Linked DNA regions of Homo sapiens. The protein of the gene in region 1 purifies or fractionates together with the protein of each later gene. This does not show direct contact. Each region holds a gene or a part of one and is shown on either strand. Other genes may lie near its edges. The genes, in order: WDR7 and DMXL2.

Region 1 (5,233 bases):
ATTATACTGTTACACGATGATTGACTCAAATCAAGCTTTTGTGTTCTTATCTGAAATAATTAAGAGACAAGAAGTACATTCACTACTTACACATAACCCTCTATGAGCAGTAAGGACCTATTTTATTATTCTTGATTTTTCTGAAAACCAATTATACCCTTTACCTGAGGGATTCAAATTCGACTCCAAACTGAGCGTGAAATGCAATGAACTTGATGATCTCAGCCTAGCTCCCGAGAGGCAGCCAACCCATGCCATCCAATCTGACAAGATATGATTTGGTGCCATTACCAGTCTATTTGGGAGCATGTAGAGTAGAGATAAAGCAACAGGCATGCAACGCCTTTCCCAAACCACAGAGAGTGCCAGTGAGTTTCTGGAGGGAGAGCTTACCTCTGCACTTCTGCTCTACTGTCCTCTGGGAATAAGTTGCCTTTCCCAAGCCAGCTCTCCAGGGAAATGAATGATTAGAAGCAGCAGGGCTAGCGGAGCATACGGATTTCAACTGAGGATGTTTAAGATGAGTGAACACTGGAAAAGGTAATATTGTGAGAAAAACAGTCTTCAATACAATTGTTTTATTTAACACACATATGTACACAGGAACATTCAGCACACATAGAGTCTATTAAGTGGAATCATTAAGAAATGTCTGGAGAGGCAGACATTTTAATTCACTCGCTGTACACAGGGAGTTCAATCATCACATTTTCATACAGGTGTCACGTCATGTCATCTTTTGCTTGTAAATTACCAATGAAGCCACATATGTCTCTACATATACAAGGACAGGTCCAAATACAGTGCCAGTGAAATCAATAAAACATTAAAGGTGTACGCTGGGATGACAATGCAGAGTTTACCTCAGTGCTGAGAAATCTAAGCTGGGATGAAGTTTGGGACTGTGGCTATTAAAATAGCCAAGGAGAGATTTATGTTAACAAGAATGCAGATATTAGTTTAGTAGTTAGAGATGACCGTCTAATCATCAAACATCGTCCACCCCAGGGTTTTGCAGCCATAGCTTTCTACTGGCCTTGGTTGCCTGTGCAGACGGAATACGTGAAAGGCCTACCCACGCTTGTGGCCCAGGGCTATTGCTCCTCTGGGCCCCCTGGCTTTGTTCTCAACCTTCGTGGCGGGGGGAGCCATCCGTGTGTTTGCGGCAGGCTGCCTACCACTCTCACACCTCTTTCCTGACACACAGAACATTTTTGTTAAAGAAAATGCTAAGGTATACATTTACCTCATCATTCCAAATAGAGATGTAGTCTACAATAAATTAATTTCCATTTAAGTTCATAAAGTAAACATATGTTGGGTATAGAGAAGACTCTGGACCCACTGGAAAACAAAGTGAGCCTTTTACCTTACATTTCTCTAGCTATGCCAAACACAACAGCACGTTCACCAAACAAATAAAGTCTAAACTGTATAGGTCTTTGTTTCTTCCTTGGAAACTACATATATAATCTTTATAAATACAATGTACATGCATGTGCCTAAATTCACTTTTGAAAGAATACCCAACTCTAAAACCAAGGAACAGTATAGATTTGCCGTCAATGGAAATAACATCATATCATTATGAAAGAGATGATCTAATGGTCTTAATTTCTTAATATGCTCTTTAAAAATCTGTTTCAGTGAAATAACCAATGTTTGTTCCTAGACTTTGATCCTACTTTTTTGTATATCAGATAAACTCTGACAACCTAAACTTTTAAGACTAAATTCTCCCATTATCATTTTGGTTCCTTTGTAAACTTCACATATTTTCTCTGAATTTAACAAATAATTTTCTATTTTTGCATGTAATAAATGATTTTGCCCAACTAACCAACCAATCAACAATTAGGCAACCAAACAACCCCTCACAAGTATATACAGATCAAGGTTTGTTAGAAACAATTCATACAAAATATAATTCTATTTTTTTCATTATTATGAGCTAGAACCAGCACAATCTGACATAAGAAGAAAGTGGTCTAGTTAAAGCTTACTTAGAAGCATAATGAACACCCTCATTGCAATGTTTGCTCAAATAAATCGAGAGCCCACATATTTTTATATACACTCCTGAACATTTGTGCCATAGTTATTACTTTTCCAGAATACTTGTTTAAAAGAAATACCTTATTAGCTTTCCTTTAGTTGATCAGTAGTAGTTTGAAGGCTGAATTATAATAATTTCATAACTGACATATGCCACACATATGGGAACTACAGGATTGCAAGTTTTCCGGGGGAAAGGGGTAAGCTCTTTCTTCAACAGGATCTGTAGCAGTAGATAGGAGAGTCTTCATTTTCGGTACACGCTATGCTTCTGAACTTGGCTCTTTATCACAAAAGTCCCTTCAAGAGATTAGTTACAGTGACTGGATAATTACATTAACTAGATCATAGGGAGTGATTATTTTTATTTTAAACTACTAAATAGACTATCATTTAAGCAAGAGATGAGCACTTCAGAAGGCTAAGTGTCTGGAAAACTATTTTCTACAAGGAAAATATTTTTGTGTACATAATTAATCATGAATCTCAAATTGGTTAGCTGTTGATAAAGAAGGTGGTAGCTAAACCCTAGGAAATTGGATTGAGTAATTTCCTAGCAATCACCAGAAGAAAAGAACATGTAAACACAGAATCTTTTTGGTAAACAATATTTTAGGTAATTCAAAGGGCAATAATTTCAATCGTGAGGACTGCCACATGACCTCAACACCCAGTGTCAGAACGGCCAGATTCAAGCAGCACTTCAGAGGTGCGGTTGAGATGGCTAAAAATGCTGATCTGGGCTGGGAGTGCAATCACAGTGTTTATTGATTTTTGTGCTTCTGTTGCACCAAGCAACAAGAGCGTTCCCAGGAACCACTGGCTTTCCCCTGCCATCTCTGGCAGGGAAAAACTACCTGGTGACAGGATGGCCACATCCTGCAGAGCATGTGTGCGTGCCTCTGAATCGACAGATGGCACGAGCGGGTTCTGCCCCTGAGAAGCATGCACAAGTGACAAGACCCGGCCGTGCCACTGGATGGCACTGGGGTGGGCAGGCCCCTGGGAACAATCTGGTGTGAGGAAGGACAGAGCAACATCGGCTTGGATAATTTAGAGAACTAAAACGCAGTCACGGCGGCAGGCAGCAGCATTAGACCATGAAGCGGTGCTCCTTCCCGTCATGGGCCATGAGGATGACGTTGCGGTTGGAAGTCCAGATGAGCCGGGCCAGCTTGAGGGCATTGTGGGAGCCGGGGGACGCGGGCTGCACAGGGGGCACCTGGTAGGTTTTAATGCAGCGCAGCTGAGGTGCCGAGTTCAGCATGCCGATGCTTCCCAGCAGTGACGTGTTCATCTGGAGGGACAGGAGAGCACATGTGTCACTTGAACAGCCCTCTCCCTTTCCCTATCACAGAGACTGGGTCGATCTCTCCTGGCTACTTTCCCCTCCATCATGGTTATTCTCCTTCACCTAAGCTTGTTCTTAACCTCTCAAAAGTTCCTTTCAGTGTGCTTGGAATTGTTCCGATGCTGTTATGGTAAATGCAGAAATCTAGAGGAATTTTATAGGGGTAGAACCTGACAAAAGGAGAGTCCATGGATCTTTAGGAAGAGGGCTAAATTATACCTCTTAATAAAATGGTTCATTTAGACAACACAGATATTTGGAAATTGTGGATATTTAAAACTGAAGACTTTCATGTTCTTTACCACAATGCTAACTGCACTCACTCCCTGAAGGATGAGTCAGCGAAGACAAGTTTTGGGATTTGTAATTAGTTCAAGAAAAGGAAGCAAAGTTAAGCAGTAGATAGAGTGACAATTGGATCAAATAAAGCTCAAGACTCCCTTCCACCCCCATTTCCCACCTACTAATACCTTCACTCTTCACTTGCTTTTTAAAAACTCGCTTTCTGGAAAGCTCTTGCTTATTATAAAGTGCAGAACCAGAATCAATTTCATCTCAACACTATGTCTGTGCCTCACTGTTTTGCTATCATACTAAGGAGAGTCTGCTGTTAATATTTTATTGACAATACCTTTTTATCAATTGATAACTTCTGCTTTTTGGCAGTTTTTCTGGATTTAAATTTTAGGTTTTCTTAATCCAGCCACATAAATGAAAAACAACATGGAAATTATGAATCATGAACAACTATGCATTCAGGTTGAAGTACTAAATACTGAATGGTAGCTGTCTAAGTGAACTGTTTCCTAAGCAACTGAGTCTGAAGATTTCTTTAGATTCTAAATATTACTTAAAATATCTTCAATAGCATTATGTGTGCTATTATAATATCACATGGAAAGAATACTGAAAATCTGGAAAGAAGCCTTGGAAATAACACTTTTTCTTTGTACTAATTTTCATTTCCAATGCTTCTCTCCAGTATAACCTCCATCTCGATGTAAGATTCTAGAGATTTGCATGAAGCATGCAGATTATGATCCAACATCTACAAATGGTTGATCCATGAAACTCTGGCAAATCCTAGGACATTTAAGATGCGTTATCACTGACATCATCCCCTGCATGTGGATCAGTGCAAAACACAAGCCATTCCTTTTTCTAGCCCTTCTCAGCAGCAGGATGGTGTCAGAGGGCGTAAATCATGGCATCTCTAGCAGAGTGTGTGCAGGCTCCACTGACATTTTCACAATTTAAATCATCTTGAGTAATAACCCTTTTAAGATGACTAATGTTACTGATTTTCCTGCATTAATAATAGCGCTGAACACAACACAGAGGTGAAAAAAAATCACTAGTGTACGAGGTCACATTTTAAAACCAAATGTATGGTTATTGTTAACTCTTTCTGTTAAAGTTCGGTTCCTGTTTCCAGCCAGGCAGTTCCTTACTGTCACCCTTTCAGAAGCGTGTTTCTTTGCTTCCTTCTCTCCTTTTCCCAAAAACTTCACAGAAGATAAAAATCAATGCCTTATTGCTTTCTTGGATGTTCCCAAATAGTTAAAATATAAATAATGATGATGAGCTTAATTTGATAGATCCAAATGACACAGAAGATTGCTGGTTAACATTAACTGGCATCAACAGGCGTAGTGTGTTTTAGAAAAAATCTAATTTCTCAGTTGATAAATAACTACAAGGTATTTTTCATTCTTTATGGATTTTCTATGAATATATGTATGAAGCTTGACTTCTGCTGGTAATTCAAAATGCAAGGGGCATATAATGCTCAGACACTTCCTTATTTTTAATTCCTCTCTTCAAATT
Region 2 (7,299 bases), on another chromosome or scaffold:
GATAATAAATTATATTTTACAGACGCCTTATAAAATGTCTTATTTGACAATAGTAATCTAGGGGAAACAGTAACTGATCCCAATTGTTTAGATGGAATAGGCTCAGATGATTAAGTAGCTTTCCCACTGTTAATGAAATTATTGATGGGTTGAAACTCAAATCCAGATCTTCTGACCTCAGATCTTTAATCTCTATATCCCCTTGTCTTACAGTTGACAACAGATGTGCATTGTTAGTCTTTGGCAGTCAGGAATAGATAAGAGGGTTCTGGTTCAGTGCTAAGAGAGGATGAATTAAACTTGGTAAAATGGGTAAGATCTATTGGTCTGTTTTGCGGTCTGAAACAAAATTTGGTGTACCACCTGGGGTCTGGATTATTTGAGAGAAGGTTAGGGGCATTTGAAAGGCAAATTGTAAAGCTCAGTTAAGTATTCATGATGAAAATGATTAAATATATAGTATGAAATTCTAAGGAGGCATGTTGTGAAGGTAAATATAAATAATAGAAACACATTAAGGGCTGACTTGTTTCAGTGCTTTTGAGTTTTATTTTAATTAAATGGTTGCCTCATTTAAACTTAATTACCTAAAAACAAATTAAGTGATTATTATTGCATACCTTGATTTCACTGATGGGCTCTTCAAGACCTTTATAGATATGTTGGCCAATGGACATTTAGTGGGATACTAGTTAAGAGGAAGACTGCAGAGATATTCTGAAGAAGCTCATAGTGACTTTAAATTGATCACATTCCAGAATTTGATTACTACCATATTATTTTGTGGCTTTATTATTATTACAACTAACTATTTGCTTTTTCTTTTTTAAGGCCATCTGAGTTCTTCTTCAATTTATCCAGTGTGCCTTGCACCTTATTTAGTGGTTACAACTTGTTCTGACAATAAAGTACGCTTCTGGAAATGTTGTATGGAAGCCAACCCAGAGTGTAATAAAAGTGATGAGAAAGAAATTTATCATTGGAAGAGATGGCCTTTGATGAATGATGAAGGAGAAGATAATAGCAGTACAGTGAGCATTGTGGGAAGACCAGTTGCTGTTAGCTGTTCATACACAGGTCGCCTTGCAGTGGCTTATAAGCAGCCTATCCACCATAATGGTTTTGTTTCTAAAGAATTTTCCATGCATGTTTGTATATTTGAATGTGAATCTACAGGAGGATCAGAGTGGGTTTTAGAACAAACAATTCATCTTGATGATTTGGTTAAGGTTGGGAGTGTACTTGATTCAAGGGTCAGCGTCGACAGTAATCTGTTTGTGTATAGCAAGTCAGATGCACTCTTGAGCAAGGATAGATATCTTATTCCGAATATCAAACATTTAGTACATTTGGACTGGGTATCAAAAGAAGATGGCTCCCACATTCTTACAGTGGGAGTCGGTGCGAATATCTTCATGTATGGAAGGCTTTCAGGAATTGTGACTGAGCAAACCAACAGTAAGGATGGAGTAGCTGTCATCACTTTACCACTAGGTGGTAGTATCAAGCAAGGAGTTAAGTCAAGATGGGTTCTTCTTAGATCTATAGACTTGGTATCTTCTGTTGATGGTACTCCTTCACTGCCTGTTTCTCTCTCTTGGGTAAGAGATGGGATATTGGTGGTAGGAATGGATTGTGAAATGCATGTATATGCACAGTGGAAGCATGCTGTCAAATTTGGAGACACTGAAGCTGATAGTTCTAATGCAGAAGAGGCAGCAATGCAAGATCATTCGACCTTTAAATCTAATATGCTGGCAAGAAAAAGTGTTGTTGAAGGAACAGCTATTTCTGATGATGTTTTTTGTTCACCAACTGTAATTCAAGATGGTGGCTTATTTGAGGCTGCACATGTACTTTCCCCTACTCTTCCACAATATCATCCAACTCAGCTGTTAGAATTGATGGATTTAGGGAAAGTGCGAAGGGCTAAAGCCATTCTCTCTCATTTAGTAAAATGTATTGCAGGTGAAGTAGCAATAGTTAGAGATCCTGATGCTGGAGAAGGAACTAAGCGACATCTCTCTCGAACTATTAGTGTAAGTGGCAGTACAGCAAAGGAAACAGTCACCGTAGGAAAAGATGGTACTCGAGATTATACTGAGATAGATTCTATCCCTCCACTACCACTATATGCATTACTTGCTGCAGATCAAGATACATCCTACAGAATTTCAGAAGAAAGTACAAAGATACCACAGAGCTATGAAGATCAGACAGTAAGTCAACCAGAGGATCAGTATTCAGAGCTGTTTCAAATCCAGGATATACCAACGGATGATATTGATTTAGAGCCTGAAAAGAGAGAAAACAAATCAAAAGTAATAAATCTTTCTCAATATGGACCAGCTTACTTTGGCCAAGAACATGCAAGGGTACTTTCAAGTCATCTTATGCACTCAAGTCTACCAGGCCTTACCCGTTTGGAGCAGATGTTCCTTGTAGCTTTGGCTGATACAGTGGCTACTACTAGTACTGAGCTTGATGAAAGCAGAGATAAGAGTTGCTCAGGTAAATATTCTCGCTAAAAATTTATAAAGTTGTACCTAATAGAAATATTTGTATTATCTCTATACTGACTCATTTACTGAATTGCAGTCTCAACTTTCAAACTTTGCAGGGAAAAGACCTCCTTAATAGGTAATTACTATTATATAATATGCTCAGTTAGAAAAGACGGTTGAGGCCGGCATATGAATGCATGGATTTGTGAGATCCATGTGCATTCTCTCATGAGTTTTTACACTGAAACCTTTGTGTCATTTTGGATTTATAATCTTGTTTTTTTGTGTGTGTTTGGGTGGGTTTTTTGTTTGTTTTTTTGAGACAGGGTCTTGCTCTGTTGCCCAAGCTGGAGTTGAGCGGTGCAGTCATGGGTCACTGTAGCCTTAACCTCTCAGGTTCAAGTAATCTTCCTATCTCAGCCTCCTGAATAGCCGGGACCACAGGTGTGCACCACCATGGGGCCCAGCTAATTTCTTTTTATTTTTTTTGTAGGGACTAGGTCTCCTTATGTTGCCCCAGCTAGTCTCGAATTCCTGAGCTCAAGCAGTCCTCCTGCCTTGGCCTCCCACAGTGCTGGGATTATAGGTATGAGTCACCATGGACTGGCCAAGTCTCTTGTTTTTTAACACAGATTGATCCCTATGATTTTTTCTTTGATAATAACAGCCCATTTGTTAATGTTACTATGGAATCATGAGGCTTATTGGGACCTCATGGGCTCAACTTGTTGGTCTTCCCATTTCTAGCCATAAACAACTTTTTACAATTACCTAATTTTCTCCAAAAAGTCTCTTCAGCGAGATTTCCATACAGTTAATGTCATACGTATTTTGCCTAATTCATTCTGTAACTAGAAAATTTTTGGCTGCTTCCTGGAACTAGATTCCATTCTCTTTTATGCACATAGTTCAGGGTAATGGTGTTGATTGTAAATGATGGCATTGGCAAAGGAAACTGAAAATTAATGATCAGAATTTCATTAATTCAATAAATATTTTGGAGGAGTGAAAAATTGCTATGTTTCAGGCACTTTCTTTACTTTATCATATTTAATTATCACAGTCTTCTAGCAGATAGCTATTATTATGTTTAACTTTATAGATGAAGACACTGATCCTTAAGAAATTAAGGGACTCATCTGAGATCACATAGGCATTAAGGAGTAGAAGTGGAGTTCATATGTGGATAAACTGTTGACTCAAAGCCTGTACCCTTTTAACTATTTCATGATTTCCAGATCTGTGGGGGAAAGGTAGCTGGAAAATATCTCTTCATATAGATTTACATCCTTATAGTATATCCCCCAAAGTTTTCTTCTCTGCAGGTTAAAATAACTAGAGACCTTCTAGGGTTTTGCCTATGACTTATTTTCTCACTATTAATTGGAAAAGAAAAATCTTAACCATTATGAGGTTGTATGCAGTTGAATGAGATTCTTCCCAGAACAACCTTAAGCTTGTGTTGTGTGTTTAATATATATTAGTTTTTACTGTGGGACATTAAGAAAGTAGGCATGGCATGATTTGTAAAAAATAGTTTATACTTTCTAATACAAAACTGTATCATTGGCTAAGCAATATAGAAATAGTGTATCCTGGACACAGTGGACATTCATGAGGTAATAAGGCAGGAATGAATGTCTCCATTTCACAGGTGGGAAACTGAAGCTCAGAGATTAAATGAGTTACACATCTCAGTAAATGGATTCTAAGTAAATGAGTTCTTCCATTTGTTCAGGTGAGACAACTTACAGTCATTCTTGACTCTGCTTTCTCTCATACCCAGTATCCAGTTCATTGGCAAATGCTATCAGTTCTATTAATATCCAGAATCCAATAATCAATTCTCATTACCTCTGCAGTTACTACTCTGGTCCAAGTCCCTGTCATCTCCTAACTGCTTTATTCTTTTTACCTCCATCTGTTCTTTGCTTAGGAACCAGTGATTCTTTTAAAACCAAATCACATTAAATCTCTCCTTTGCTCAACATATACTGGTGCCTTCCTGTCTCACTTTAGAATAAAAGTTAAGAGCCTTACAGTGGCCTAAAAGGCCCCACACGATCTATGCTCATTTCTACTCTATTAGAATGCTCTTCTTCCAGATTCATGCATGGCTTGTTCCTTTACTTCCTCAAATTGCTGCTGGCATGTCATCTTATTGGAGAGTTCCTTCCTGGCCACACTGTATGAAATAGAACTCTCTTACTCCAGCATTCCCTATCTCTCAGTCCTGCTTTATTTCCCTTCATAGCATTAATTTCCACATATTATTTGTTTATTGTTTGTCTCTACCTCCTAAAATATGATCCCCAAGAGAGTAGGGACTTTGCCTTATTCACTGCTGAATTCCCAGTACCTGAAGAGTCCCTCACATGTAATAGATGCTTGATTTGTTGAATGAATAAACGGACGAATGAGCATGGTGGCTCACACCTGTAATGGCAGCACTTTGGGAGGTTAAGGTAGGAGGATTGCTTGAGGCCAGGACTTTTAGACCATCTTGGGCAACATAGTGAGATCTCATGTCCATAAATAAATAAATAGATACATATTAGGTTGGTGCAAAAGTAATGGCAAAACTGTAAATACTTTTGCACCAACCTAATAGCTATCTATCTAGCTAAATAAATAGATGGATGGATGGATATAGGTAATGGGAAGCAGAGCTGGGGCTTGATCTTTGGCAATTTAAAAGTTTTTGTTTTTTTTTTTCTGGAAAATACTATTTGATTCTATAATCATTGAGTACTTCCAAAGTGTCAGTTATTGGGCTAGGTGCTGTCTGTATTTTTGCTTTGCTTTTATCCAGCAGTGGCTATAGTTTTGGTTACGCTTGCCATACCTTCATACTTTGACTAAGTGGAATTAATTTGTATAAATAAATTTGTAGAATCAAGGTGAAGGTTCAAACTAACCATGTAACACTAACTAGCCTGGGTATTCAAATTTTAAATCTTTGATAGTACCATATTTCAGTTAATTTAACCAAAGTAGAAAATACTACCTGCTTAAATATATAACAAATGATTTCACATCAGTTATGTAATTTCCATTACATCTCATCGGAATTCATGTAGAAAATATTATTAAAAGTTGTACCTAACTTACCATAGTTAATATATTTTTTATTGGATTTCCAGATGTCTTTCATTTATTATGAGTCAATATAAATGTTCTTGTTATCTATTCTAATAGTTAATTGTATTTCTCCAAATCATTTTTCTTTTAAGAGTTTAGTAGTCACATTTTTTTTTGTAAAGATAATTTTTTGTAAAGACGTTAAAGTGTTCAGGAAGGAATACACTAAAACTTATGTATTTTATATAAATTATGACTAAGTTTAATGTTTGTTTTATAGCTTATCAGTTTGTGGCCTCTTGCATTCTTTTTTCCTTAAACATATTTCCTGTTTAAATTACAGGAAGAGATACATTAGATGAGTGTGGTTTGAGATACTTGTTAGCTATGCGCCTACACACATGCCTTTTGACATCGCTGCCTCCTTTATACCGAGTGCAGCTACTTCATCAAGGTAATTCACTCACTGTTTGAAGCTTTGCACAACTTTTACTTAATATTGGAGCGATGGGGTGTATCATGTTTGTGTGTAAACATTAGGTAAGTCATTACGTGCACACCTATCACTTGGCTTAAGATCTTTCTGTCACATAGTACCCACTTACCATTTTTCTATGTATCCTTCAGCTCTATTCTGTGACTTTTGCTCATCTAACTAAGTTTTTTAGAATTTATTTACTAGAGTAGTAGCTTAGGGGGTAAATGTGGTATGCCTGAGGTTGTAACCCAAAGTGGCTGTCTACAGAGTAGCCCTGAATATCTTGATGTCTTTTCTTTGAAAAATTATGTAAACTTTGCTCTGCGATGTGTTTTTATATTTACTTTAATGTAAGCATTATGTTCTAGTTATTTGCCAGCAAGTAAAGTTGATGATTCAGGAAGATCTGCCATATTGATAACAGTGGATTTGTGTACTTCAGGCATACTGCTACACCTGATTTGAGACATAAGGATTTATATCAGCCTTCGTATTACAGATTAAAAAATTGAAACTATAGAATTAAAAGTGACCTGCCCAGGATACAGGACTATTTATTAGAAGAGTTGGGAGTGCGAATCCCAGTCCAGAGCTTATTTCAGTGGACTATATTTCTTTTGAAACCAACATCTTGGAAAGAGTCCCATAATATACGTCTTAGTATTATAGAACCTAGAACACTAGGCTTGATACACTGTTATTCTTACCCATGGCACTTACCCTTTAACCTATGAATGTTCTTTGAAAACATAACTATAAATAGCTATCTGAGATTCTGTGTCTAAACTATATTTCATCTGCCCAATCCTTTGTTTTTGAAATAGATTTTGCTGAGGTATTTTTTCTATTTGAATTATCACTCTAATGAATAACCTTGTACCTTGGCATGTAAATATTTGCATTCCTGATTATTTCCTCATGCTAGTTTTCCAGCAGTGGAATTACTGAATCAAAAGGCATGAAAATTCTTCAGTCTTGATAAGTATTACCAAAATGCCCTTCAGAAATGTGCTCATTTACATTCCCAGAAGTTTGTATACACGTACTACGTACCAACAAAAATTGAAAACAAAAAATTATAAAAAATATAAAATAAAAAAGAAGTTTGATGATGCCAAATCTCAACCCCATTGCCCACATTTGATATTAACATTTTAAGCAATCTATGCCATTTGGATAGGTTTTTAAAATGGTATCTCCACGTTCTCTTAAGTTTTAGTTTTGGGTGATAGTCAA

Evidence for each region.
Region 2: the proteins of WDR7 (region 1) and DMXL2 purify together in Homo sapiens (affinity purification with western blotting; 2 studies listed by BioGRID and IntAct, with this or other methods). This does not show direct contact.

The regions. Positions count from the first base shown.
Region 1 is NC_000018.10:57,025,123-57,030,355, reverse strand, and holds the end of WDR7 (WD repeat-containing protein 7), read right to left. Parts: intron 3,353-5,233; coding exon 3,149-3,352; 3' UTR 564-3,148; downstream 1-563.
Region 2 is NC_000015.10:51,493,764-51,501,062, reverse strand, and holds part of DMXL2 (dmX-like protein 2), read left to right. Parts: intron 1-831; coding exon 832-2,511; intron 2,512-2,598; coding exon of another isoform or gene 2,599-2,684; exon of another isoform or gene 2,685-2,826; intron 2,827-5,928; coding exon 5,929-6,039; intron 6,040-7,299. UniProt on the Homo sapiens protein: May serve as a scaffold protein for MADD and RAB3GA on synaptic vesicles. Plays a role in the brain as a key controller of neuronal and endocrine homeostatic processes.